Linked DNA regions of Homo sapiens. The protein of the gene in region 2 interacts with the protein of the main gene of each other region in a pairwise test. Each region holds a gene or a part of one and is shown on either strand. Other genes may lie near its edges.

What was found.
Region 1: the proteins of PER2 (region 2) and BHLHE41 interact in a two-hybrid assay, tested with the Homo sapiens proteins (one study listed by BioGRID).
Region 3: the proteins of PER2 (region 2) and RORC interact in a two-hybrid assay, tested with the Homo sapiens proteins (one study listed by BioGRID).
Region 4: the proteins of PER2 (region 2) and LENG8 interact in binary tests that used the Homo sapiens proteins (3 or more experiments, as listed by UniProt).

The regions. Positions count from the first base shown.
Region 1 is NC_000012.12:26,122,026-26,129,318, reverse strand, and holds the start of BHLHE41 (class E basic helix-loop-helix protein 41), read left to right. Parts: upstream 1-4,281; 5' UTR 4,282-4,539; coding exon 4,540-4,601; intron 4,602-4,736; coding exon 4,737-4,800; intron 4,801-5,139; coding exon 5,140-5,247; intron 5,248-5,577; coding exon 5,578-5,689; intron 5,690-6,150; coding exon 6,151-7,253; 3' UTR 7,254-7,293. UniProt on the Homo sapiens protein: Transcriptional repressor involved in the regulation of the circadian rhythm by negatively regulating the activity of the clock genes and clock-controlled genes.
Region 2 is NC_000002.12:238,285,591-238,292,589, forward strand, and holds the start of PER2 (period circadian protein homolog 2), read right to left. Parts: upstream 3,021-6,999; 5' UTR 2,759-3,020; intron 2,308-2,758; exon of another isoform or gene 2,279-2,307; intron 1-2,278. UniProt on the Homo sapiens protein: Transcriptional repressor which forms a core component of the circadian clock.
Region 3 is NC_000001.11:151,828,797-151,835,834, reverse strand, and holds the start of RORC (nuclear receptor ROR-gamma), read left to right. Parts: upstream 1-4,032; 5' UTR 4,033-4,070; coding exon 4,071-4,110; intron 4,111-4,702; exon of another isoform or gene 4,703-4,705; coding exon of another isoform or gene 4,706-4,907; intron 4,908-6,376; coding exon 6,377-6,406; intron 6,407-7,038. UniProt on the Homo sapiens protein: Nuclear receptor that binds DNA as a monomer to ROR response elements (RORE) containing a single core motif half-site 5'-AGGTCA-3' preceded by a short A-T-rich sequence.
Region 4 is NC_000019.10:54,452,187-54,459,208, reverse strand, and holds part of LENG8 (leukocyte receptor cluster member 8), read right to left. Parts: coding exon 6,942-7,022; intron 6,559-6,941; coding exon 6,457-6,558; intron 5,664-6,456; coding exon 5,553-5,663; intron 4,780-5,552; coding exon 4,527-4,779; intron 4,259-4,526; coding exon 4,117-4,258; intron 3,846-4,116; coding exon 3,642-3,845; intron 3,243-3,641; coding exon 2,964-3,242; intron 2,885-2,963; coding exon 2,744-2,884; intron 2,574-2,743; coding exon 2,288-2,573; intron 1,463-2,287; coding exon 1,361-1,462; intron 1,276-1,360; coding exon 1,207-1,275; intron 1,107-1,206; coding exon 977-1,106; intron 896-976; coding exon 688-895; coding exon of another isoform or gene 303-687; exon of another isoform or gene 1-302.

The DNA.
Region 1 (7,293 bases), on a different chromosome or scaffold from region 2:
AAACTTTTTTAGATTGTTTTGGACTCTGCTTAACTTTGATGTAAAACGTCTGCAGATTCTTGTCCGCTCTGTAAAACAGAGGTGATCAAGAATGGCTTCTGCCCTTCAGATGGGCCATTTTCACAGTATCACAGGCAGGAGACTCTACGCCCCTAAGCAGATTTTGGGGCCATCAGAGATGTACAGTTAGTTTGGATCACACTTGGGTTCCTAAAACACCCTGGAGTTAATTCTCCAGAAGGGCAGTAGGGCTTGCAGAACCCTAAAGAGGCAGAAAACCTCTATTCCCCATGGAAACTTTAATCCTTTCAGGCAAGTTCTGTTTCTGTTGGAAATCCAAGACTTTGCAAACAGGATAAGGCCTTCTAAAGTCACAGGGTGAATATAATGAGTGCAGGACTTAGGATATTTAGGCAGGGGGGAGAATTGGCCTAAGTATTTCCTTTCATTAGTGTCTCTATAGGTAATGATTTCCTTACTTAACCAAAGAAAAGCAATGGAAGCAGCTACCCCTCGCCTATTAAAAGGAGAAAGATGGATATCTTTAATTGAAAGCAAAGCATCACAAAATTCTTTAATTATAAGCTCAAAGGGGCTTTGAGCTCATCTTGTATCTTCTTGGCTTTCAGCAGGATAGCATTAAGCTTTCCTAAAAAGATAAGACTCAACCTATTTTAAAACATATCCAAAGATGGCATTCTAGTTTCTGTTCCTTTGTTAGCGTACTTTTTTTCCCTTTCTAACCTCACCACAGGTGAACTTTTCCTATTACTAACCTGAAGTCTTCACATTAGAGCTTGGCTCAGTTTGCTCAGCAGAGCTGGTGAACAGCTGGTCACCATCAGCCTTTTCTAAACTGTACTTCCATCTGTCCATCTGTACAAAATTATAAGAGTTAATTAGGATATTTGGATTTAAATCAATAAATTTGAAGCTAGATGCCAACTGAATGACTCACTGACATGGCAAAAGACTGCCTCTCTTCTTGCCATAGCTTTTCTTATCTCTGTCATCAGCTCCAATGCTAACACCTCTCCCTTTTCCATCTCTCTTGCAAAACTCCCCACACAATTTCATTCACACACACACACAAATGTGCACACTTATACTGGTAAATAGAAAAACATCCCTGAAGCAGCTAGTTAACACTTATACCTTACCACTCACTATTCACATTGAGGTGTAAGAGTCGTCCAGGGTCCAGACTCTCGAACCCACTGTCTGGGCTTAAATCCTGGCTCTGGGACCTTGGAAATATTTTGCAATCTCACTTTGTAAGCATTTTCTCATCTGTAGAATGGAAACAATAATAGTATCTACCTTAGAGGGTTGTGGAAATGATTAATGACTTAATACATAAAAAGCTCTTTGAATGCAGTCTGGTACTCTAATCTTAAAGGCTATATAGTTGTTAGCTATTGTTACACCCTTCTTGCGCAAAGGGATATTCAGAGGCATCAAACTATGCCCAATATTCCAGAAGCCAAGAGTTTGAGAAAGAACAGGAATGGGATTCAAGTTTAAGGGAAGTGGGTAACCAAGAAGAGTCACCAGGGTGAAAGATCAAAGAAAAAAAAGGGCAAAAAGCAAACAGGAGATTGACAGAACTACAGAGAAATGGCAAAAGCTGGCATTTAACAGGGAAAAGGTAGACAGAGAACATAAGGGAAAGGAAGATAAAGAAGAAATGAAAAAGGGAAACATGAGTTAAAAGGTGAATATGTAAAGGAAAGACAGAAAAGAAGAGGAAAAGGGGATCAAGAACAACAAAGGAGATAAAAATTGGGAAAAGACCCCATTTGCAGTTTGAGTAGGTATCACGGGAAAAGGGTACGGAAGTGGGGAAGCTTGGGGCAGAAAGGATGGGGGGAGAGAGGAGCCTCAAAGAGATAACAGAAAAAAGCTTCATGTGTCATTTGCAGCTTTTTGTCCCTTTAAATTATGGGGTGCTGCAAGCTTATTTAACCCACCTTTGAGCCTCAAGGCTCCTGATCGTGTTCCTCCTATTTCAACTTGCATTTAATCTCTGCCCCAGACTTAGCTTCTAAGGTTTGCCCTGGTCAGATGTCTGCCTTGTGTTTTTAGCCCGACGAGGCCAAAATGCAATGATCTTGTCTTTATTTCATTTTCCCTAACCAGTCATCCTTTTCAAGTGAAATTTAGCTCTGGAGCAAATATTTACATCCCCTTTCTACTCCAAACATTCAGAAATCTAGAAGGGGACCTGGTGTTTTAATTTTTAAATTATTCACCTAACGGCATTCCCATTTTTAGTCAATTAAAAAGAGGTAAAAATGATACAGTACTGCAGGAATAGGTCGCTTTTAGGGCTCCAACGTGCCCTCCCCATCGAAGGGTCTTAATTACCTAACCTTTTGGAAATAGGAGAGAGGTCGGACCGAGATTTAAAATAAAGTCAGCATTTTAAAAATACTTTTTAAATTAAGAACCATCGTGATTAAATTGCCTGTTTGGTGCAAAATACGTTCCTCTATTTGAGGAAGTCGAGAGACCTTAAAAGGCCCTCTAAACAGATGAACTGAACGGACCGCGAGCGTCTCCTCACGCCGGGGTGATCCTGGGCCGCCGCCGCCGCCCGAGTCACGAAGCCAGACGCAGTGCGCGTCTCCGCCCAGGACTCCGGAGACTGCAGCAGCGCGAGCGGCCGCCGCGGCCCGGGCTGCTCCTGGAGTCGGGGAGGAGACGCGACTCCCGCAGACACGTGACCTCCTCCCAGCCGCCGCTTCCCGCGACCCAGATCCGTCCCCGGAACCCGTGCCCGGCGGGGCGGGCCGGGGGACACGTAGCGGGCGCCCCAGTCCCTGCTGCGCCCTGGTGCATGTACCTTTGGCGTTCTTCTCCCCTCGGTTCACTTATCACCGGCAATAATCAACGTTTCAGAGATCACCCCGGGGAGAATGTAAATATCCCTCTCTGTGCAGGAAAAACCTTGGTTTTTTTCTCTATGTCTTTATGTATATCTAGAGAAATATATATATAGCCTCCATCCCACCCCTGGGAGTCCCTCAGGACATGCCTTCCCCTGGGCTGGCAGGGCGGCGTGGGCAGTGCGCATCCCCGGGCACCTCCCGGTAACTCTCACTAGCAGTGAGTCATGCTCCCAGGGTGGCTCTGGGGAAAGGTAACCCGGCTCTTGCTGGCCTGTGATTCCCGGCGCCGAGCGCCGCGGCTGCAGGGCGAGCGCGCGCGCGCACGGGTTCCCCGAGCAGTGATGTGGCAGCAGCGGCAGGTCGGATCACGTTGCTGGCCCTGTGCTGGTACCCGTTTGAGACCGGATTAAGGAGGGAGGCTTTGGAGGTGCCAGCGGTAGTAAACGTGGGCTCTGCACACTCCGGGCGTCTCTTATCGCGCGGGGGGGCGGGGGGATGGGGAAAGCACGTAGCGTCACCGGAGGCTCAGAACGCGGCAGAGTTGAGCGGGCGGGTGATAAATGCTGCATAGCTTTTCTGTGGTAGCCCCTCTCGTGCCACCCCCTCTCGTGCCACCCCCTTCTCCCTTCCCAGCCCCCACTCAACCCCGGCTCGCTCCCCGCCGCGTTCCTCCAGGAGCACACGCGGCCCCAAACGTCGTCATCTGCTGCTGTGATTAGTGGCACCGCAATTCCGGCTGCTGCGGGGAAGTTTAGTTGGCCCAGGGACGCCGTGTCACCGAAAGACACTTGGATTGCGACATTCGGACCCAGTGACAACGTTTTCATGTATCTTAAATCCTTCAAGGAGCGGATTGCAAGTTGCTTCTTCTCGAGGCAACCTCTCCACCCAGCGCCAAGGAGTCCCTCCAGGCCACTGATCAGTGAGCAAACAAGTCTCCAAAATTTCCTTTGGGACTCAAGTTTACCCACCGCGAATTCTCTTTTCACTTCCTTTCTATGGTTCAAACCAACAGCACAATCGGTGGAAAAGCAAAAAGCCACGTTCACATTCCTGCACCGTAACAACGGACGAACCCAGGGAGTCGCATTTTGGAGCCAAGGAAGCTCAGGCTGCCCCGCACCCCTGCACCCCCACTCCCCCCTCCTCCTGCCGACTGCATCGCCTTTGGGAAGATGAATAGCTTGGCCGAAGTTGTTTTTCCTTTCCGGTGGCCCTGATCAGGTGTCCCCGCCCCCTCCTGCCGTTCGCCTTCTCTCGCCGCCTTCTCCCGACGCCCCCGCCCGGCCCGGCCCCTCCTCCCCCGCCCCCCTCCGGGCTGGACCGCGGATGGTACGTTCCGCACGTGAGCTGGGTGCTGGTCTGGCCGGCGACGCGCGTGCCCTGTGGCCAAACACTGCCTGGAGTGAGAGCAAACTACCAGCGCAGTGGGGCCGGCGCGAGTGTGCGTGTGTGTGCGTGTGTGTGTGCGAGCGCGGTGGAGGGGGGGGACCAACTGCTTCACACTTTCAACACTGCACTGAAGAGGGAGAGCGAGAGAGAGACTGGAGACGCACAGATCCCCCCAAGGTCTCCCAAGCCTACCGTCCCACAGATTATTGTACAGAGCCCCAAAAATCGAAACAGAGGAAACGAACAGCAGTTGAACATGGACGAAGGAATTCCTCATTTGCAAGAGAGACAGTTACTGGAACATAGAGATTTTATAGGGTAAGGTGCACGCACCCTTGCGAATATCTGTCTAGGCTTTGGTTTGATTTTTTTCTTCTCCAGAAAGTGGTATGGAGCTGGCGAGGGCAGAGCCCCTCCCCGAATGGGTGCCTGATGCTGATTTCTGTTTTGCAGACTGGACTATTCCTCTTTGTATATGTGTAAACCCAAAAGGAGCATGAAACGAGACGACACCAAGGTAAGTGTAAGTTCCCGATATTCCTCATAACCTGCATGGGTAGTTAATTAGAGCCATTGATTTCACAGTGAAGCTCTGCCCGCAAATATATTCCAGCCCCTGAGCTTCCCCAACTGTGAATTTTAAGTGGCTTGCTGGGTACTCTCAGGGGGATATTAAACATCATACCTGAATTTAAATTGCATTGCAGAACAGTCCAGAGGAAAGAGGTTTCTTGGGTGTAGTTTATCACATAGTATGTTTTATGGTGGGGGGGCGGGGGGGGCAGACGAGGGTAATATCCAATAAGTGAATGTTTCGCTTACTGTTTTCTCTTTTCCATGACTCTCATATATTAAGGATACCTACAAATTACCGCACAGATTAATAGAAAAGAAAAGAAGAGACCGAATTAATGAATGCATTGCTCAGCTGAAAGATTTACTGCCTGAACATCTGAAATTGACAGTAAGATGCACATTTTCATTCTTTGCTGCTCTCCAAGGGCGTGTTAATAGTCTGGTGCGACTCCCAGAAAATATAAGAATAAATGTAAATATAAGTTCCTGACTTAAAACTTGTGCTATACCGTACAGAGTTTCCCGCAAACTGGAGTAGGTGCTCCCAGCTGAAGGCAAGAAATCATTTATAACCTGTCTTGTGGAAAGCTCAAGAAGTAAAAGAACAGTACTTCTTTCAAAGTGTTTGCTTAAATTGCTGTGCTGAATGGACAGCCAATTAAGCCAAATGTGTGTTTTTAAGTAACCAAGTGCCCGTTTCTTTTTTGCACCACTGCAGACTCTGGGACATCTGGAGAAAGCTGTAGTCTTGGAATTAACTTTGAAACACTTAAAAGCTTTAACCGCCTTAACCGAGCAACAGCATCAGAAGATAATTGCTTTACAGAATGGTAAGTCAGTTCAGGGAGGCCAGCCTACCCTGATGAAGCGGGGCAGCCCACAGGGGAGCAGTGTCAGGACTCCCTCACCCGCACCCCATCTCTTTCCGTGGGCTCATGGGTTCCCTCTCATTTGTTAAATTGCTTATACTTTCCCTTCATTGGAACGAGCCCATTTCCCGAAGCATCCTAGAGGCTTTCAGCAGAACTCGGAGGAATCAGGATTTAAAGTGGCGGTTGCACCCGCTCCACTTTGGTTTTCAGCTGGGAGGAGAGCGCCCTCTCCCCGCTCCGCACCTCCGCCACCCCGCTTCTCTCGTCAACTGGTGGATTATATCACTTGAATACTGGGGAAAAACCGAGATCACTTTAGTCGATGCAGGGCCCACGTGATAAGCAGATGTTTTAACGTGGGTATGTTTCTTCTTGCCTCCACTCCTCCGTCCCCCACCCCCATCCCTTCCTCATCCTAGGGGAGCGATCTCTGAAATCGCCCATTCAGTCCGACTTGGATGCGTTCCACTCGGGATTTCAAACATGCGCCAAAGAAGTCTTGCAATACCTCTCCCGGTTTGAGAGCTGGACACCCAGGGAGCCGCGGTGTGTCCAGCTGATCAACCACTTGCACGCCGTGGCCACCCAGTTCTTGCCCACCCCGCAGCTGTTGACTCAACAGGTCCCTCTGAGCAAAGGCACCGGCGCTCCCTCGGCCGCCGGGTCCGCGGCCGCCCCCTGCCTGGAGCGCGCGGGGCAGAAGCTGGAGCCCCTCGCCTACTGCGTGCCCGTCATCCAGCGGACTCAGCCCAGCGCCGAGCTCGCCGCCGAGAACGACACGGACACCGACAGCGGCTACGGCGGCGAAGCCGAGGCCCGGCCGGACCGCGAGAAAGGCAAAGGCGCGGGGGCGAGCCGCGTCACCATCAAGCAGGAGCCTCCCGGGGAGGACTCGCCGGCGCCCAAGAGGATGAAGCTGGATTCCCGCGGCGGCGGCAGCGGCGGCGGCCCGGGGGGCGGCGCGGCGGCGGCGGCAGCCGCGCTTCTGGGGCCCGACCCTGCCGCCGCGGCCGCGCTGCTGAGACCCGACGCCGCCCTGCTCAGCTCGCTGGTGGCGTTCGGCGGAGGCGGAGGCGCGCCCTTCCCGCAGCCCGCGGCCGCCGCGGCCCCCTTCTGCCTGCCCTTCTGCTTCCTCTCGCCTTCTGCAGCTGCCGCCTACGTGCAGCCCTTCCTGGACAAGAGCGGCCTGGAGAAGTATCTGTACCCGGCGGCGGCTGCCGCCCCGTTCCCGCTGCTATACCCCGGCATCCCCGCCCCGGCGGCAGCCGCGGCAGCCGCCGCCGCCGCTGCCGCCGCCGCCGCCGCGTTCCCCTGCCTGTCCTCGGTGTTGTCGCCCCCTCCCGAGAAGGCGGGCGCCGCCGCCGCGACCCTCCTGCCGCACGAGGTGGCGCCCCTTGGGGCGCCGCACCCCCAGCACCCGCACGGCCGCACCCACCTGCCCTTCGCCGGGCCCCGCGAGCCGGGGAACCCGGAGAGCTCTGCTCAGGAAGATCCCTCGCAGCCAGGAAAGGAAGCTCCCTGAATCCTTGCGTCCCGAAGGACGGAGGTTCAAGCAGAGTGAG
Region 2 (6,999 bases):
ATCAGTGTTCAATCACCAGAGGAGTCCCACCTCATGAGGTCACAGCTTGATGTATATCCACAAACAACATGCCATGTCACATGTCACCAGAGGCAGGACAGTGCCAGCCCCCCAGAGGCTCCTGGTGGCCCTCCCAGCCACCATCTACCCCGCGGGGACTCACTAGCTTGGCTTCTTGCAGCCTAGTGAATTCTGCCTGTTTTCGAACTTTACATAATAGGGCTCATACAGCATGTACTGTCTCTGCAAGCCCTGCAGGATTTTACAACCCCAAATATTCTAACATGTTTTCTACTTCCTGGTAGGAGCCAACTCCCTGAGGCCAGCCTGCTGTAATCCTGAGAAAATGTTTGTCCTGCTAAATAAACAGCCGCACTCTCCATGGCAACGGTTGGGTAACTGAGGAAAATGTGACCGCAGCCATCCAAATATGGAGGGAAGGAGGTGCACCGGGGAGGCATTGTCTTGGCCTCACTAGGACACCTTCAATGATCTCAATTCAGACTTTTAAATCCCTACATTTTTAGAACTACAAGACTTTAAAGCAAATAAAGGCAAAAGTGTCAGCCTCCTAGCTCCCCGGTGGTCAGGGACTGAGCTACTCCGAATTGCAGGAAGCTCAGGCATCTGCTCCTCCTGTACCTGGTTTCTTAAAGAGTGGATTCTGATTCCTCTATGTCACCCCAGGAAGAGCACGAGGAACCCTTCGAGGCCGGTGAGGGTTCAGCACGGCAGCTCACTCTGTCTTGGGAACTACCAGTCTCTGAAAACCAAGTGGCCTTGACTCCTGTCACCAGTCACTGCTATTCATTTACTGCTTCTAATTTGCTCTAGACTTGGAGATATGGTAACAAACTTGTTACAAATGTGTACACGATGAGCATAATGAGTTGAAAGGAGGGCCTGGTCCCTAGGGGGGAGTGCGTGGGCTGGGGGAGGGGTCCATCAGAGGCCCCCTCTAGACTAATTCTCCCTTGGTTCCCAAGGTGGGCCAGCTTTCCAGAAGTGTGGCGACAGTCTCTGCCAAGCTTATGGAATTGTGTGTTTCTGGCTCCCTCTGCCAAACAGAGTAGTTTTCAAAAGGTAAAAGCACACCCAGAGCCTGTCTTTCTTCTGACTAAACGCCAAGTGGCCCTGCCAGCTGTTCAATGACCTGACAGAGCCGTGGTTTGCCGAGTCCTGGTGAAGTTACATCATCGCTTAAAAACAGCAGTGTGACTACCAGTATTTTTGAGAAAGTTCAGTGGGTACGAGAAGTAGTGCACAGGAGAGGAATCTTTCCTTTTTCCTTGTAAGCACTGCAGACGTGGCTCACAGGAGAACATTACTTGGCCCAAAGGCAAGAGCATATCAGAAGCCTCTGTCTCCTGCGAGAAACCTGGGAAAAATCATCTGTAGGGTAACAGAAAACCAAAAACCTGGGAATTAAAGTAGACCTCTGAGACTGCCCAATCTGAGCCCCTCCAAACAAACAAGGAAACTGAGGCCCAGACTGGGAGCCAGCAGCAGCCAGCTGGCTGACACAGGGCTCCCCCTTCCCACCTGGCACTCCAGTCTCCACAGAAAGCCAGGGCTGCGTTAGTTCTGTACCAATGAATCATACCAAGGCGACAGTGACAGATAACTGCAAACACCCACGGTGCCATCCCCGCGCTGGCACACCACACAGCTTCCACTCAAAAAAAACGGAGTCCCTTTCTTCATTATAGTCATATAGCACACAAAAATCAATTCACCTTGTATTTTAAAACTCAATTTCCAAATAAAGCCTTCAGGTAGAGTCCTGTTTTCTTCTCAGGCACACCCAGCCTGGGACCAGAAGCCCCAGGTGGGGGTAGAGGGTGGGCCAAGAAGTCTAGCAGTCCTGCTGTGCCATATACAGGTGAGAGGCGTCCATGTGGGGCTTTAGCCACCGTGTGGGGTTCTTAACACATTTCCCGGACTTAAGGCCCTTCCTCCCAAATTCCAGCCCACCCAGGATTCAGCACGCAAGTGGAGGCCATCACTGAACCTCTGAAGCTCATCCTGCCCCAGGACGATGGGAAGATCCTGCAGACAGCCTGGGCCTGGGCCTCAGTTTGCTCATCTGTCAGGCTGAGGGGTTACTCTGGGTGATTTTCAGGGTGCCTTCTGGCTCTGTTGTTCTGTATGAATCAGCTTTCCAAACGGGTTCCTTCTGTGTAGGTTACAGAAACCCTGGCAACCAACTCGTCATCCCTTACCCTGGCCTTCCTGAAGGGGGAAGCAGGCCACCTCCCACCCCCTGGTCTATGTCTGGGACTTGGCAGCCAAAGTACATCCCAGAAGGTAGGCGCGACTGCTGCACCAAAGAGTGGACACCCCCATTCCCTTCTATCCAGTCCGGGGAAAGGGAATTAATACAGGGTGGTCCAGGGGAGGCAAAGGGGCGAACATTAGAGGGTCTCCCCGCCCTCAGGTTCCCAGGCCTGGCTTGGCACCGGGACTTCCTTGTCCCTCTGATCACCCATTCCAGGAGACCCGTGGGTGTCCAGGAAAAGCTCCTAGATCAGCGCCCCTCCATGGCCCTTCCCCAGCCCAGGACTTAGCCCTGTGGCCTCAGAAGAGGCAGTCAGCTCCCCGAGGGTCCTCCAGATCCCAGGGCCGGCTGCGCTGACCCTTGGTTTCCTTGGCCTTCCCCATGCGAGGGGAGGGAGGGTTCCCAAAAGAGAATCGCCCACGGAACCGCAGCCCGCGCGCAGTCACTCGGTAGCTCGGTGCCCTACACACGCTGCCTCACCTTTCGGACCTCAGGCTCCTGAGCTGCGAAGCGGGGGTTCGAGTCCCCAACCCTCGGTGTCACCGCAGTTCAAACGAGCGCACCCTGCGCGCGGCTCGACCACTCTCCACCTGGGACAGGGCCAAGGGCACACGCCCCCACGCCGGCGCCGTTTCAAGCCGAGGAGTCCAGCAGCCCAAGGAACTTCCGGCGGCGCCTCCGCTGCCCGAGCCGGCGCTGGGACCCCGACCTGCCCGAGGCCCGCGCGCCGGCGGCGGTTACGTAAGCCGCAGCGGGGCCGCGCCGCGCCACTTACCGCCGGCCGCGCCCGCGTCAGCCCGTCCGCCGGTCCCTCCGCCGACTCGCGGCTCTGTCCGCCCGGCCCCGCGCCCGCCGCCGCCGCCCACAGCTGCACGTATCCCCTCAGCGCCGCCGCCTCCGCCGCGGCCGAGTCGCCGCTGTCACATAGTGGAAAACGTGACCGCGCGCGCCGCGCCCGCCCCCGGCCTCCGCCATTGGCCGCGACTCCGTCTCATCTGCATACATGAGGGGCGGGGCCTACGAACGCCGCGCGCCCATTGGTGGCCGCGCCCGTCGCTCTTTTTACATAAGACGCACATGGAACTCCATGTTCACCTCGTCGGTTCCTCAATGGAGACGCGGCGCGTTCGTGCTACCCGTCGTCCTCCCTAGTGGTCTCATCCACTTCCGGCGTCGGCGCCTTCCATTCACTACGCCCTCAAGCCCGCCAGCTCGGGGAGCGCGGAGTGGCGCGTACCATTGCGGGCGGGGGAGCTGGGCGCGGGGCTCCTGCGCACCTCCGGCCGGCCTGGCAGACCCGGCGCGCCGAAGCCGGACGAGGGAGACCTCCACCTCCGGCCACCGGCCAGAGGCGCGCCCCCAGCGGCCAGGGCCGCGGGAAAGTCCGCGCGGCATGCTTCATTCACGCATTCACATTCATTCATTTACTCATTCACTCACTCATTCATCGCGGGGCCCCGGAGCAGCCCAGGAGAAGGTGGCAGCACCGCCCTGCAGCAGCTCCGGGGGCACGCCCACCCGGGCCTCTGAGGTGCCTGTGGTCGACACTTGTCCCGGCAGCTACCAAGTGACCTTTCTTATTTTTGAGACCACGTGTTGCAATTTTTGGTTCAGGAAATAGAGTCATTGTTACTCTGGGGAGGTACAAAAGAAAGAAATGATGTTGTCCCTGCCCCCAAGCGCATCACTAGGGAGAAAGGACTATCTCATAAAAAGGAAACTTAATCAAATGCTAAATTGGGCGATGTGGGCTATAAATTAACCAGAGCTATCCCCACAGGCTCCGTGAGAAAGGCAGCACTTCCAAGGCGGGTAAGATGGGCCCTGAGAAAGGGACGCCTTACAACGGTGCAAGCCGTAGAGACGCAGGAGCCAGGGGTAGGAGGTTGTCCTGGGAGACAGCGCGGGACCCTGCATCACCTTGTTTCGGTAAGCATTGTGTGGGGCATGTGGAGCCTCTAAACTTCCATTTAAAGTGTCAGGAGAAAGAGTACAATTTCCCCGGGTCTGGGTAGAAGCCTGAGACTTACAGGACAGGAAGGAGCTTTCAGGCTCCCACGCAGCAGGCTCTGAATGTGTAGGCTCTCATGGGGAAGGCGAGACTGTCCAAGAAGCTGGAGCCCGCAGCATCTCTCTTTACTCTTCTTGTTCTTCTTTACCTGGACTCACCTGGGGACCAGGGATGGGACAGAAGGAAAAGTTATGAACCCACATCAGGAATTCCTGAGTGTGATAACTCCTTCTCTTCTACTTGACAAGGTGTGTGTGCAACTTCTCAGATGCAAACCAGGGCAAATACCAAGTTCATCGGGGCAGCCCTTCCCACAGAAGCCCCGGGAGGCCTGCATGCTGTTCACACACTCAGTCAGGTGGCCCCTCCTCCTGTTCCTCTGACATTGACACCTCGACACACTCCCCGCCCCCTCTCCCTAACACATACACACACAAATGCCAAGCAAACCCAGGCCCGGCTGCTGCGCCCTGCACACACCCAAAGGCTCTTTTGTTTCTTCCCTCCCATTGACGTCAATGGGGAGCTCCATTGTTCTGGAAACAAGAGTAAACAGACAGCTCATCCACACCTTACCGAGATTCTTCTTCATGCTTTTGCTGGGTCTTGCTCCATATTCAGCCTGCTACCTGATGTCACATTTCCTCCCTAAATGTAGCCTTTTTTATTTCCACCAATAAATCTGGTAGAAATATATTGAAATCAATTCTTTTAGAAATTATCAAGTGCTTTGGGCTCTAGGACTCTTCAGAATCTCATCTATTTTCAGTGATTCACAGCCAGTTTCTTCTTTCCTATTATTGGAAATTTGTGTACACTCCACAAATACTTGTTGACACCTGAGTGTTGAGGGGCATGCAAAAATACATCTCACTGCATCCCTGCTTGTAAGGAGTTGGTGATGTAGAAGGGGGGAGGAGGCAGATTCAGAGGCAATTTTGTCTAAGTTGTGGTGTGTAGGTCCTGAGGGAATAGGACAGCCATGGACAGAAGCCTCCATCCCAGCTCCAACAGAGGACAGCGCTCAGGGGATGAGCTCCTACAATCAGGCCAAGTGCATGGATGCCATTCTTGCTGAACCAAGATGGTGACAGAGAGAGAGCGCAAATTGGGGCAGTCAGATTGGAGAAGGAAGGGGGATGAACCCTTTCCTAGCCAGCCCACACTGGCCAGCTGTCACCTCCAGCACGGAGCTCAGAGCTCTTGGATAGGGGAATTGCTGTTGGCACTGTGGGAGGCAGGCTGGCTAGGAGACAGCTAGTCCTTTAGTTGGGGGTGGAGGTGGAGTGGTAAGCCAGGGTCCCCACCTACCTTGGGAATGCTGCCAGTGGGAGGAGCTGGCCTCCCAGCTAAAGGCTGCTTGGCCCCTGCTCCACCCACTCCCACCAGCCTGTTTCCACCAGTAAGCCTGGCCCAAGTTGGCCCACCCATCTATGTCTGGGCCTGCCTGTAGGGCCTCTCTGCACCCAGGCCTCCATGCCCTTGCCAGTCCACTCACTGGCCCTCTCATTCACTCATGCACCCAGCCAATTGTTTACTGAGCAACTACTATGTACCAGGCAACTGTGCTGATCACTGCTTCCTCTCATTGTAGGTGGCATGGTTTGCGGGTTGGCTAGCTGGAGGGCCAAAGGACAGGCGGCTAGGAAGAGAATTCCCTCTGCAAATGGAGGAGGTGGTGGCCAGCAAAGTCTCTCTAAAGAGATGGAGGGGACACTGTCAAGCTTTCTGGCCCCCTAGTGCTGGAGCCCCTTTCTTGGGCCTAGGGACATTGGAGATGATAATGCCCAACCCTTACTCTCCAGCCTCCCTTGAACCCAGCGCTGACCTACGGCTGACCCCAGCTTGGCATGGTGGCAGCTCCTGGCAGGGAGACCCTCAGCCAGCTCACAGAGGTGACCTCAAGGGCGCGGGCACCTGTGTCCAGGGTCTCAGGGTGAGACAAGGACAACTTGCCTCTAGTGACCCGAGGGCAGGTGCCTGTCCCTGGACATGAGGTGGTTTGCGGACCGGTATAAAGAAAGTATCTTCCAGCTCTTTGGGAGGCCAAGGTGGGAGGATTTCTTGAACCCAGGAGTTTGAGAACAGCCTGGGCAACATAGTGAGACACTGTCTCTACAAAAAACAAGAAAGCCAGGCATGATGGCATGTTCCTGTGGTCCCAGCCACTTGGGAGGCTGAGGCAGGAGGATCCCTTGAGGCCAGGAGTTCGAGGTTGCAGTGAACTGTGATTGCATCACTGCACTCCAGGCTGGGCAACAGAGCAAGACTGAGATCCTATCTTTTCAAAAAAAGAAGAAGGCATCTTTATCATGCTAGCTACCTACTGAGAAGGCTTTTTGATTTTTAAACTAAATATAGATCCAGGGAGGCTGTTCTTTGTTTAGGGGAGACATGTGGGTGTGATGTGCACACACGTGTTCTCATATGTCTTCCCCAAGGAAGTCACAAGATTGAGCCATCCACGATGGGTGTGCAGTCCCCATCTTTCTTCGCCTCACCCTGGAGAAGAGCCTGGGGAAAGGAGCTTGCTTGGAGCCTGGAATGTAAGCATCCATGTCCCAATGGCTCCTTTGCAAAGGATGCCCTAGAGATCACAGAGCTGGTGGCACAAGCTAGGACCCGCATTTGATGTGGAATAGAATGGTGAGAGTGGGCATCCTTGGCCCGTTCCACCCTGGGGGAGGAAGTGTTCAGTATTTCACCACCA
Region 3 (7,038 bases), on a different chromosome or scaffold from region 2:
ATAGTACTTTGGACCAGGTCCTGAACTTTATCTGTGTTATCTCAGTTGATCATCACAACCACTCAGTAGAGTAGATATTAGTATTCCTCTTTTTTGGGGTGGGGGGACGGAGTCTCACTCTGTTGCCCAGGCTGGAGTGCGGTGGTGCGATCTCGTCTCACTGCAATCTCCACCTCCCAGGTTCAAGTGATTCTCCTGCCTCAGCCTCCCGAGTAGCTGCCACTACAGGCGCGTGCCACCACACCCGCTGGTTTTTTGTATTTTTAGTAGAGACGGGGTTTCACCGTGTTAGCCAGGATGGTCTCGATCTCCTGATTTGGTCTCATGATCTCGGTCTCGGTCTCATGATCCACCCACCTCGGCCTCCCAAAGTGCTGGGATTACAGGCGTAAGCCACCGCGTCACAACCACTCAGGAGAGTAGGTATTATTATTCCCACTTTACAAAGAAAGAAATGGATCAGATAGATAGGTTAAGTAAGCTTGCCTGGGGAACAGCCCTGGCTGGAGGGAAAGGTTCTGACCTGACTCCACCCAGACACCCCCACTGCCACCCCAACTGCTTAGGGGAAGCTGTGAGGAAATCCAAGGCCACTCCTCCCAGGAGCAGTTCACTCAGCATTCACAGCCCTGAGGCTCTGTGATGGGGGCCCTAGCATTGCTGGAGGAACATCCTGGGTAGCTAAAGTACAGAAACATGGGAGTGAGGAGGTCCTAAGAAACCCTCCAGTGTGCAGATTGCTCTGGCCCCAAAGCACTTCTATAAACACTAGTCAGAGGCCAGGTGTGGTGGCTCATGACTGTAATCCTAACACTTTGATAAGTGGATAAATGTGGGAGGCTGAGGCGGGCAGATTACCTGAGCTCAGGAGTTTGAGACCAGCCTGGGCAACATGGTGAAACCCCATCTCTACAAAAAATGCAAAAATTAGTTGCATGTGGTGGCATGCACTTGTAGTCCCAACTACTTGGGGGGCTGAAGCAGGAGGACCTCTTGAACCCAGGAGGTCAAGCCTGCAGTAAGCTGAGATCACGCCACTGCACTCCAGCCTGGGTGACAAAGTGAGACCTTGTCTCAAAAACAAAACAAAACAAAAAAATCCACTAGTTAGGACAGGTATTATTGCCCCATTTTTACTGATGTGGTAGCTGAGGGCTGAGATTTCCCTCAGGGCCTACAGCTAGTAAATGGCAGACCACATTCTTATAAGTGATTCTGCCCCAGCATTTAAACCCTTCTTGCCACCTCCAAGCCTGTGTGACTATAAATGTTAATTGGTAGAGGAGAGGTACAAGCAGGGTCACTGTGGAAAGTTCAAGGCCAGGAGCTAGGGTCAAACTCCCACTGTTCCTCCACCCACAGTGGCCTTTGTGACAAGAAGGGGGAGGGGTGGGGACTGTGAGATCTGGAGGCTACCGAAGGTTACAGAGCCTGGGCTGTCCTTTTTCAACGGTTGAGGCACAACCCATCCCTGAGTCACTCCAGTGGGTTGAGGCGTCCCCAGGCATGGAACCCCCTAGAACCCAAAGAAAAGTGGTCCCTAATCACTGGATCAGGCATCCCAAGGAGAGGGCCCTCCAAGGATGGGGCTGGGGAAGTGTGTGCCACCGCAGACTACCCAGGCTCCACATATTTTCCACCTTGACCCCCAGGCCCTCCCTGAAAGGGCAGATTTGTGCTGAGCTTTAAGTGGTTTCTGTGGTTTAGGGTTGGGGAAGGAAGGAAAGAGATGCTGGGGACTGCTCCCCAGTTCCAAGCCACCACCACCACCTCCCATCCCTTCCAGAGTGTTTGCCCCCAGCATGGAGATTTCCCCAATAAGGGGACTGGGCACGTGGGGATGAAATGATTCTCTGATCCCTATCAGCCCCTTCCTTATATAAGATTGTATTTGAAGAGGAAATAACCACCGCCCTGCTTTGAAAGGACGATTCTTCCAGATAAGGGGCTGTGATTGCAGCAAGAGGGAGAAAGTTTAGACAAGAGGGGGAACTTCCCATAAGGATAACCAAGGGATCTTCTTGCCCTGGGGAGAAAAAAAACTCAAACTATCCATGCTTAGGGCAGGGGAGAGGTAGAGAATGCCTAGGAAGCATGTGACACTCCTAGGCCTAGAGGTCAGGATACTGTCTTCTAAATCTCCAGTCACTTCCTCCCCACCCTACATAGTAGCACAAAGTGGCACAACTGGGGAGTCAGCTGTGCCTGCAGTGTCTGGGGATGCTCTGTGTCCATCCGCAAGCATTCTACGTGACCTCCACTCTGTGCCTGCAATTGGTGGGTTGTAGAAGAGGTAGTCACGAAGGGCCCCTGGGAGACCCAGAGTCAAGAGGAAGAGAGGCCTAAAAAGGAGAAAAGATAGAGAGGGGACAGCTGGAGAAGAGCCACAGACAGGCAGGAGCCAGCAAAGAGAGACAGAGAGATGGGGGATAACTGAGGAGTTCTGGGGAGGAGGGGAGCAGAACGGCATCTCCCCTGCACTCCCACGCCCGGCATGTTGCTGGCTCCTCCTGTCAGCTGGAGGGTGCTGGGGGGGCGGGGGGGAAGGGAGCTGCAAAGCACTTTACCTCTCACTCCAAACCTGCCCAAGGTGCAGAGCCCCCAAACAGACCAACATCCTGTTCTGTGCAGAGATGCATACATGGATGCGTGGGCCCACATTTACCAAAAGAACACGGGGGATAATCAGAGCCTCAGAGGCATAGGCACATACCCTTAGACTCAGTGCAGAAGGTCCCCAAAACTTCCCCTCCTCTTTCTCACTACTCATCCACTGTCAATGACCCTAGGAGTTGAAAAGTCCTTCTCCACTTCTACCTTTATCTCTCAATCTGCAGCCATGGGGAGACTCTGGGAGCTACCTAAGAACAGAGGTGCTGATGGTAGCAGAGTGTGAAGCTCCAGGGTTGGGCAGGAGTGGAGGATGGCGAGACGAGACGGCAGAAGAGGGAAGGGACAGCTGCTTGCCCTCTCCATGCCAGGTGCCACGTGCACCAGGTGGGGGGGAGTGGGCGAGTCACGAGGCTGTGGCATGGCTGACTCCTGCTCTGCTGTTTACCAGCTGGGAACGAGAGCAGGAGGAGGTGCCAGGGAGCCTCTTGCTGCAGCCTGGCCCCTGGCCAGTTGCTTGTTGGGTAACCAGGAGAGTCAGGCCCAGCTAATCAAACTCTGGGCCCAGGCCATGCAGGAGAAAAGCAGCACCAGGATCCCCAGAAGCCTCGTCCTCTTGGCCCCCTTCAGAGCCTTCACTGCAGGCCTCAGTGTGGGCCACTAGGTCTGGGAGCCTCTCCTTCTCCCAATGAGTCCAGTGCAGCATCTCTCCTCTCCTCTTCCCCACCATGGCTTCTCTGCCTCCAGGCACTCCTCCAGGCCTGCCCCTTGCCCCAACAGATGAGGAGCACGTAGAAGCATCAGGGGGTCAGGGAGTCCTGGCAAGAGCAGCAAGGGTTAGGGGCAGGGGCCGAGCAGGCAGAGGCCTCAGGGAACTGAACAGTCACTGGGAGGAGTCTGACTGCATCCTAGAGAAGAGACACAGTCCCCCAAACCTGCCCTCTCCATCTCCCCTATGCCTGTCACCTGTCTTAGGTAGAAATCACAGGATTCTAAAGTCACAAAGACTTGGGTCCAAATCATAGCTCACCCATTTATTGTTCTTGTGTGAGTCCTTGGGCAAAATCATTAATATCTCTGAGAATCCCTCCACTCACTGATCAATCTGGAATAATAATGTTTCCCTGTGGTGGGTGCTGTGAATATTTACACAAAGTAAAAGCATGGATTTACATAAAGTGTCCTGCAAAGGGCCCAGCACACAGTAAGTGATTAATAAATGCTAGTTCCCTTCCTTTCTCCTGTCCTGTTTCTCCTCAAGGCTCCATGCACTGGTCCACTGGTCTCTCCTCATGTCCCCTCCTGGTGCCAGGACACTCTGCCAGCCACTCCTTTTCCCTGCCTGCTGGAGGGCCAGGTGCTCCCGCCTTCCACCCTCCGCCCTCCTCCCTCCCCTGGGCCCTGCTCCCTGCCCTCCTGGGCAGCCAGGGCAGCCAGGACGGCACCAAGGGAGCTGCCCCATGGACAGGGCCCCACAGAGACAGCACCGAGCCTCACGGGGTAAGAGGCCCATGGCCCTGCCTGCAGGTGGAAGAGACTGCTGGAGGTTCAGAGGAGGGCAGAAATGGCAAGAGACTGGGCAAGAAGTGAGGAGGGGAGGGAGGGACAAGAGTGCAGAGGAGAAAGCCCTGGGTTGGCAGGGAGTGAAACTGGAGGAGAAACAGGAGGAGGGGCTGGGGAGATGACAGAGGAGAAGAAATCGCAAAAGGAGAGAAACAGGAAAGAAAGGGAGAAGCGGGAGAAGGAAGAAACAGGTTGGAGGGTAGATGGGGAGGGAAGAGCCAAGTCAGGGGAGCCAGATCTAGACCCAGCGAGGGGTCAGAATGTGGACAGGCCCTCCCAGGTGTGGGCTTACCCCCCAGGAGGCACAGGGACACTGCTTCCTTGATCTGGCCAGGACCCCAGACAGCAGTGGCCGGGAGGCTGGCTGCTCCACCTTCTGTTCATTCACCAGTGGAGAAACCTGTCCTTTAAGGAGTGACAGACTTGGGGAGTGTGGCAGGGGGAACCACACCCTGTCAGCTGCCCATGACCACGTAGCCTGGTCCTTTCCTCGCCACTCACCCAGGGATGTGGGATTTCATCTCTGCAGAGAATGTGGGGCACTGGGCCATCAGCAGGGAAGGACAGAATGTCAGGCCGTCCTTGGCCCCACCCATGGTCCAAGTCAGGAACCCCCTCAGAGCAGGATCGCAGGGCCACAGGCTTGGTCAGCTGTGAGCATGGAGGAGGAAAGTTTGAGGGCCAGAGCCACCAAGCTCCAGGGCCACCTGGTGGAGGAAGAACTGGCTGCCTGGGTGAGCAAGGGGAGCACCCCCACCACAGGACTGCTCTGAGGTGCAAGGCTAGAGGCCAGGAGCCGGTGCCACGTCAGGGAGGAAGCTGGGTGGGGCCAGGCAGGAGCAAGGGGAGGTGGGCGGGGCTGGGTGGGGCCTTGCCACCTCGGGGCAGTCTTTTCTCCTCCCTCACCCCAGCAGAGCCCAGGCCATCAGGCCACTCGCCTCCACACAGCCTAGTGACCACGGCCTGCCAGTGGGGAGCATCTCCCGGGCAGAAGGGCACTGTGTGTGTGTGTGTGTGTGTGTGTGTGTGTGTGTGTGTGTATGTCAGGTGTCAAGACTGAACAGCAGAAGGAAAAAAATAACAGAATAGAGTCAGAGGTTAGGGAAGCTATAGGGGGTATAGGGCATGGTTGAAGGGCTTTCTGAGACAAAAGACTGGCCATGTGTTCTGTGATGAGCTGCTATGTGGATGTAGGAAATGGGCCAAGGTCTGGCAGGGGAATCCTCTTTCCAGGGGCTCCCTGGCTAGGTGTTTCATAGATGTTAACTGCATGAATGGGTGACACCCCCCCACCCACCAACCATGCTCCAGCTAAGGCCCTCCCCTCAACGGCTGCTCCCCCTGGAGGTCCGAGTATCCATGTGACCCCCATCGACCCACTCATGCTCCCTACTGCCCAATCTCCACCCAGACCCGGCCACGCAGCAGCAGCAGAGAAGGGAGGCCTTCCTCTTCAGGCTGGTAGGCCAGGGAAGCCTGGCCCGTGGAAGCCAGAGAGGGGTCTGTATTTGCAACTCTCCCCTCCTCTTCCTCCAAACATCCTCTCCCCCTACTCCCAACCCCCACATCTCTGAAGCCCTGGTGTTTTCAGGCATAGATAAGCAACCAAGAGATTTCAGTCCCACAGAGATTTAACTCTGGCTGTAGGATATTTCTTGTGCACCTCCAATGAAATTACAAAGTAAATAAGACCAACACAGTCCCTGCCTTCACAGGGCTTTACAATTTGGCAGGAAAGACCCATTTCATAGACAATGACACAATTACAGCAGTTAGGTGACAGTTGGTGACATGGTGAGTGCCAGGAAATAAAATGCAAGGAGCTAAATGTGTCAGCACAAGGGCAGGGGAAGGGGGTGTGTGTGGCTTCTCCAAGGAAGAAACATAATCAGAGACCTGAGGGAGAAAGAGAAGTTGGCTAGATTAAGGGGTACAGGAGGGACAGGCATTCTAGGCAAAGGAGCAGCTTGGGGGAGTCCCAGAGGCAGTGAGGAGCCTGACACTTCTGGGTACCTGGAAGAGGGCCAGTGTGGCCCAAGGGCAGAGGAGGAGAGAGGGGCACTGCAGGGGGTGGCCTGCCTGCCCTTCAGACGCCAGGCTCTGAGGGAAGGAGTGCGGCAGTGGGATCCTAGGAGTGGGGAAAGTGTCTCAGCCCCTCATGATCTTCAACCTTTGACGTCAACCCCCTCTCTTGTCTTTACAGAGCTGCTGGCTGCAAAGAAGACCCACACCTGTGAGTAGGGGGTCCGGGGCAAGAAAATGGCTGGGGCATAATGAGATGGAGAATAATTCAGCAAGTGATCTGTGGGGGGACTGAGGTTGGACAGAGGTGGAGGAGTCAGGAAGAGATGGCAGGCAACAGGAAAGCAAGGGGAGGTGCGAGGAAACCACAGATCAGGGCAGTGGGAGGAGATGAGGAAGAAGCCTGAAGCATGAAAGGAAACACTGTAAAGAAACCAGGAGAGAACAAAGGAAAAGGGAACCGCCTTGTGAAAAAAGGCGAGGAGAAATGCTGGACAGAGGCAGGGAGATGGGAGGGGGTGGGGCCGACTGCCAGGCCGGGGAAGGAAGGAGATAGAGGTAGGGGGGTGTGCGGAGGCGGGGTGGCCTCAGGAACTCAGGAACTCAGCGCTGCTGCCAAGGGAGACAGGGAGCCTGCACCAGGCTTTTTTTTTTTTTTTTTGAGACAGAGTCTCACACTGTCGCCTGGGCGGGAGTACGATGGCACAATCTCGGCTCACTGCAACCTCCACCTCCCAGGTTCAAGCGATTCTCCTGCCTCAGCCTCTCGAGTAGCTGGGACTACAGGCACCCACCACCACGCCTGGCTAATTTTTGTATTTTTAGTAGAGACGGGGTTTCACC
Region 4 (7,022 bases), on a different chromosome or scaffold from region 2:
CCCCTTGCTGTGACAAGCGAAAACCTCTCTTGACATTGCCCAGCGTCGCCTGGGCACCTCAATCACCAGACAGAACCATGCGTCTAAACATGAGTCAAGCAACTCATCCCCACCCACAGCAAGCCAGGCGCAATGTCTAGTGAACGAAGGACACTGCAGGGGCATGGCCTGACCAGGGGCCTCTGGCACCGCGCCCAGTGTGGCCTCAACACAGGTGTCTCCCTAAGCGTTTCTGGTGCTCTCAAAGGAGCTGAGTGGGACTGGGCCTTGTCCTGGTAGACCAGAGGCTGTCTAGATGGTCTCTATGGTGGGAGCACAGCGACAAGCTGAGAAAGCAGAGACCTCAGGGTTCTGAGGAAGCCCAGGGCAAGGAGTGAACTAGGGGGTCCAGGCAGGAGAGAACAGGAGGAAGAGACACACAGATGGGGTGGAGAAGAGGCCCCAGAGGCAGTGAGCTGGGAACAGTGGGGAGAGGGAGAGGAGTGACCCGGAACACAGAGGTGACCAACAAGGAGAGCAAGAGGAACTGGAGAGGGGAGGGCTGAATGGAGAAAGATGATGGGGAAGCAAGGACCAGGACAAGGGTTGGGGGCTGGGGGAGGCCTGCGGCCAGGAGCTGGTCTGAGGGGCGGTGCGAGGCGGAAGGATGGGAAGAGCAAAGGCAGAAGGGAGCTTGGCACCACATACGTTTTGATCATGGCCTTGAGGGCGACCTTGCGCTCCCGATCTGCAAACTTGTCCACGAGGTAGCCAGACATGCAGGGTGCATGGCAGTAGAGCCGGAAAAAGCGGTGGTAGTTGCCCAGGGCCCAGGCTGTCCTTAATGCCAAGGCGTGGGCCACGCAAGGATCTGCCTTCAGTTCTCGTGTGAGGTATGCCAGCTCCGTGGTGATGTCTAGCACCAAGACAAAGAGGGTGAAGTCAGCAGGGCTCAACCCTGGGTACCATGGCCTCTGTCCTGGGGACTGGGCCTCACCTCCCGAGTTCTTGGTGAAGATGTAGTAGAGGATTCGGTAGGCAGTAAACTCGCCCACATTGCCAGGCAAGTTCTCGGCGTACAGCGACTTGAGCTGCGTCTGGCACTGGTTAAACTCTTCATGGTCACCCTGGAAGGCAGAGGCACCGAGGGAGGAGAGCAGAGTGAGGGTGCTGAGGGCAGAACGGCAGCAGGAAAGGGGCTGGGGAGGCCCGCAGAGGCCAGCTCACCTTCTCCAAGGCGATCCGGGCATGGGTCTCGTACACCTCCACCGTGAACTCGGTGCGGATGCCCTGCACCTGGGGCAGCGGGGCGAGAACAAGAGTCACAAGGAGCGGGAGGCAGGACTGGCTGAGGCCAGGCCCCTCCCAGCGCGAGTCTCACCGTCAGATCCTGCCGGATCGACTTCATCTGCTCGCAGGCAAACGCGTAGTCCTGCTTCTCTTTCCAGTGGCACTTGACCATGCACAGCGACTTTTTCAAAACCTGAAAAAGGGAACTGAATTCACACTCGGAGTACAACTCAGGTAGCGTGGCCAACGGCTTCCACTTATTTGGTGGGAGAGTTGCAACATTAAAAAAAGAAAAAAAAGGCCAGGCGCAGTGGCTCACGCCTGTAATCCCAGCACTTTGGGAGGCCGAGGTGTGTGGATCATCTGAGGTCAGGAGTTTGAGACCAACCTGGCCAACATGGTGAAACCCCGTCTCTACTAAAAATACAAAAATCAGCCAGGCGTAGTGGCAGACGCCTGTAATCCCAGCCACTAGGGAGGCTGAGGCAGGAGAATCGCTTGAAGCCGGGGAGCGGAGGCTGCGGTGAGCCAAGATCACGCCATTGCACTCCAGCTTGGGCGACAGAGCCAGACTCTCTCCCAAAAAAAGAGAAAACAAACCCACAAGACATGGGTTAAGAGTGGCCACCTCCACACCCATTTCCCTATAAGCACATGGCTGTTCACAGGTTCTGCAGCAGAACAGTGACTACGCCAAACACTGGAAACACAGCCCCCCACGCCCCACAGCCCACGGGCCTGGGAGAAGGCTTTATGCTCCGTGTCACCTAAGCCAGGAACCACGGCCCAGAGGTCAAGCGATTCGCCGGCCAAGCTGCACACCCGCCACGCGGGGCTCCAGGGCAGCAGAGCGCCTTTGCGCTCCTCTCAGAATGCCGACCAGCCGAGGCGTCTCTGGCCGAGCTTCCCCTGCCATACCAGAGCCCCCGTGTGGCCTCTGCCACCCTCCCTGGGTTGGCTCCCCAAGTCCTGAGCCAGCACGGCCTCACAGAGCAGAACTGCCCTGCTGGGCACTTACTGCCACAGGGCGCACGGTGGACGGGTCGGGGGCACAGGTGAGGCGCAGGTAGTGCTTGGTGATGTCAGGGCAGGTGCCCACGATCTGCAGCTCCTGCCAGTCAGGGTCAGCCCCACTGCTCTCCAGGCTGCTCATCTGCAGCACCAGGGGCTCGAGGCGCAGGCGGCGGGAGTGTCCGTGCTGGAAGCGGGCTGCCCGCTTCTGCTTCTTCAGCTCTCGCTCCGGGTCCTCACACTCCAGCGCCGCCATCTTCTTTCGACTGCGCTTGGTGGGCGCCAGATCGTGCCTAGGAAGGGATGAGGGGCAGTGAGCGCGACAGGCGTCTCCAGCCCCCCTTCAGCCTCGCCCCTTTGGCAGCTGGCTGTCCACCTGTCCGGCCCTCCTCCTCCTTCTCCCATGGGTCCCCAGTACCCTCCTCCACCCTGGCCCGTGTGTCGAGCCCTCACACAGTCTCACCTCTTCCCACGCTGCGCCCTGCCTCGGCCCCGATCCATATGGGCCCCTCGACCGCCCCGGCCCTTAGGGGGCGGGTTCCTGCGGCCCACAGGGTGACACTCATTCCCTGAGTAGGAGCTGTCGGAGTCTGAGTGGGAGTCACTGCAGGAAGAAGCAGGAGGGTCAGGCCTGAAACGCCTCCCCCTCCCTCACACACAGCCCCAGCCGGGAGCCTCAGTACCTTCTGCGGAAGTGGCGCGTCGGGGACCTGGAGGAGGAGCGGGAGCGGGAGTCTGTGCTGGAAGAAGAGCTGTTGTCCTTCATGAAGACGTTGCGGTTGCCAAACTTGGTGAAGCTGTTGCCCCGGGCTCGACCGGCACCCCCAGCCCCGGGCGTCCCTCGCTGGGACGGGGCACCCCCGCCCCTTGTCGCCGAGCCTGCCCCTCTAGGAGGGTGAAGGCTGCTAGCGGCCTCCCACCGCTTCTTCTTAGGGCTCTCAGCCACAGGCTCCCGGGTCAGCCTGAGAATACAGCAGGGCAGGGCGTCACCAACCCCGCCAGACACTGGCAGGACAGCCGCCACCACCTCCCTCAAGGTACCGACCCGCCTCCGAAAGGAAAGGCACTTACCCCAGGCGGCTCAGCTACTACAGTGCAGAAATGAGACGCGAACCCAGGTTTTCCGTCTCCAGAGGGTGCGCTTAACCACTGAGCAATGCACGCCTCTCCAGCACCCATGGTCCCCACCCCACCCCACCGGCCTCCCTCCAACCAGGACTTCATCCCCCCAGGATCCAACTTTCCAGTTCATTTCTCTTTGGAGCTCCTGGTACCTGGGACCCGCAACTCTCCTACCTCCATACCCAGCCCATGCCTCTCACAGCACCACCCTCCCACCTATGTCCCCCACCCAGACTAACCCCGGCAAGGGCTCCCGGCTCCAGTCAATGGTATAGGCCGAGCCGTCCTGCAGCCGCGCCTGCAGCACCTCCTTGAGCAGCTTTTCCGTGCGGTCCTTGTCCTCCTCCGACTCACAGGCGGTGAAGCAGCGCTCCACATACTCTTTCATGTCCTGGGGCCAGTCATCCGGCTTCCCAGACAGGTTCCCCCGGGCAGAGGACCCGCTGCGGGAGGACAGATGAGGGGCTCAGCTGGAGACGATCCCAAACTCAAAAGACCATCCCCACCGCCACTCTGAGCTGACACAGCGGGACGCAGTCCCCAAGTTTTCCTTCTGTCTCCTTCAGTGCTCACAGCAACCCCCAAGAGAGGGTCCTTCTGCCCTTTTCAGAGGCGCACACTGAGGCTCAGGGTGGGCAGCTGGCCAGTGGGACTGGACCATAGACGCTGAGTGCAGAGTGTGGGGCTGCGACGGGGCAAGGGGGCAGACGTCACCTGTGGTTCTGAACTTTCTCAGGGTTGGGCTGGGGGCCAAAACCACTGTGCTGGCCCTCTGCGTTGGAGCCAAAGCTCTGGGTGGTAACAGCAAAGGGTCGCTTCTGGATGTTGAACTTGAGACCTCCAGTCCCAGGGGCGGCTGTGAGGGCAGCGAAAGCTATGGTTAGGCCCTTCCCCGGCACATCCAGGGGTCCCCAGGGGACGGGAGGAAGTGGAAATGCAGGGAGGAGCGCTCAGGTTCTAGAGGAGGGCTCCAGCACACATGTGCCTGGTCCAGAGCAGCCCCACCCCCAGCCTGGCGATCACAACACCCAGAAACAAGGAGCAGCACACACCACGGGCCTCACACCCAGGAGCTCTTATGAGGGCCCAACCGCTCGGACCTCCACGTAGCTCTGCCAACTTACGTTTCATGCGGTTCCACAGCTGTTGGCCCTTCTTGGGCTTGGCAGGTTCGGTGTAGGTGTGTGGCCCATAGGCCTGGCCCGTGGCGGGCCCCGCCTGGCTGTGCTGTGTGGCTGGAGCTGTCCCAGGCTGAGGGCCACTGTTCAGCGTGTGAGCCCCATGTGGGGGATTTGAGGGCTGAGGGGGCTGAGCCGACGGCAGCTGCTGAGGGGGAGCCTGGTAGGACATGCTCTCATCCATGCCGGGGACTGGGGGCTGCAGAAGGAAGCAGGCGCTGAGCACGGGAGGCAGATTCTGGGGCTGGCGAGTGGCACTCAGCCCTCGCTGTGAGGACGCAGTGGTCACAGCACTCAGCACTCAACCCTCCCGTGACCTTCCCAAATGTGAGTTCATTCGAGTCCTCAGTAACTCTGTGAGGTTAACATTTGTTAACAGCCCTTTTCACAGCTGACAAGGCTCCAGCTCAGAGACTAAGCGACTTCCCAGGGCCCTAAGCTATGAAGCGGCAGCTGGCAGCGTTTCAATGCTGGAGTAACAGCCACCGACAACACACCCACTCCAGCGCTACCATCTGAGCACAAGACACCCATGAGCACACACACTCATGGAGCCCAAGGATGAGGCTACCATCCTTCCCGCTTTCGAGAGCTGACCGAGATGCGTAATTACACCAGGGGTGGGACAGCTGGGATTCAAACCCAGGTCTACCTGCCTCCTGTGCACTAGCCCGGCCATTCCTCCAAGCTGCACATTCAATGCAAAACCCAGCCGGTGTGTGCACGCCTGTGGGTGACCATGCTAGGGAAAAAGATGAGATGTCTTTCAACATCTCAGCCCTGGCCTTGGCTCAGCCTTAAACCCACCCCAGGTTCAAACACTATGCTCTGTCCTCCTCATTTTCAGATCAGGAGTTGCTTGGAAGGAAAAAAGCAGCTTAAGGAGTACAAGCCATTCCTCATTGACAGCTCATTCAAAAATCTACACTTCCTCTGCTTGAGCAGGGTATGGGAGCTGGGCTAGGATGTTACCTGGTTCAGAGTCCCTTGGTGTTGGGGTGCGGATGGCTGCTGGGGTGTGGCTGAGCCATAGGAGCCGGCCATCCCATACTGGGAAGGGGAGCCATAGCTCTGGTACATGCTCTGCAAAGGCGCAGGGAGGGAGGGTTTAGTGGGAGGCCTACCCTTTCCGCTTCCCCAGCCTGCTCAGGAACTACACCAGCCATGACCCTCTACCAATCCCTCACCCCTTTCTCTCTTCACTATATTAATGCACCACATCCTCTCATATATTAGGAAAAGAAAAACCTCTATCAATCCCACATCTCACTTAGCTAGTTCTCGGAAGAATATAATCAACGATACTGAGTGCCAACTCTTCTAAGCACTACGACAGAACAAAAGGAAAACCCATGCTGTAATGAAGCTTGTGCTGGAATTACATGTCCGGCTGGAGACATCAACATGTAATACATCCAGCAATAAGGATCATGAAACAATAAGATGGCAAAGAAAGGGAGAGGGACAGGCTGCGAGGCAGGAATGCTACTTTCAATCAGTGTGTCAGGTAGAGGCTCTCTGAAGGCGGCATCTGAGCAGAGACCTCCAAGAGGCGGCAACACAGGGAGCACTGCAGCCAGGGCAAAGCGAGAGCGGGCCTGGCGGGTGCGGGCATCAAGGAGGTCTCTGCTTCGATGGCCATGGCAGAATGAGCATGAGGAGAGAAGGGACCAGAACCGGGTATGTAGGACCTTGTGGCTCATGGCGGGGACCTAGGAATTTACCTCCTGGGCAAGTTAGAGGGTTTCTGAGCAGTTATCACTGCGATCTCCAGTCCATCCACCACCCAGCCCCATCCCGGCAGACTCCACTTCACCTCGCCCCGACCCAGCAGACTCCACCTCGCCCTGCCCCGCCCCACTGGCTGGGCACTCACCATGGGATAGTAGTAGCTGTAGGGGTAGGCATAGTTGTACTGCTGGTACCACTGGTAGTACTGCTGCTGCTGCAAAGCTGAGGCTTCTGCCTGGGACACGTACTGTGGAAGCAGAGGCACATGTGCCGTCAGCAGCCCAAATCCACAGGCACACGGCCCCCAAAGGGCAAGCCTGTTTACTGGTGGCCAATTGCCAAGGGATGAAACTGGGTCCATGTATCTGCAAAGTGAGCCACTGTCTCTACCATGAGACTCACGCACGTTAGAGACCAGGGGCATGGGCATGGCCTCCCTCTTCAGAACCACATCACGCCCTAATTTCCTCAAGGAAACAGAACTTTTTCCCGTTCAGATTTAGATACCCTGGAACGTCTTTTCATGTTTCCCCTCAGAGCACCCCGTCTGAATGATACAACAGGACGCCAGACTGTGTCCCTCCCACAACCTCTGGCTCAGGGTACCCCAGCCCCATGAGGCCTTCTCACCTGTGCACTGGCCACAGGCCCATTGCTGCTGGACTTGGCAGAGCCGCCGGCAGCTCCTGACTTGCTGATGCTGGCCAGGGC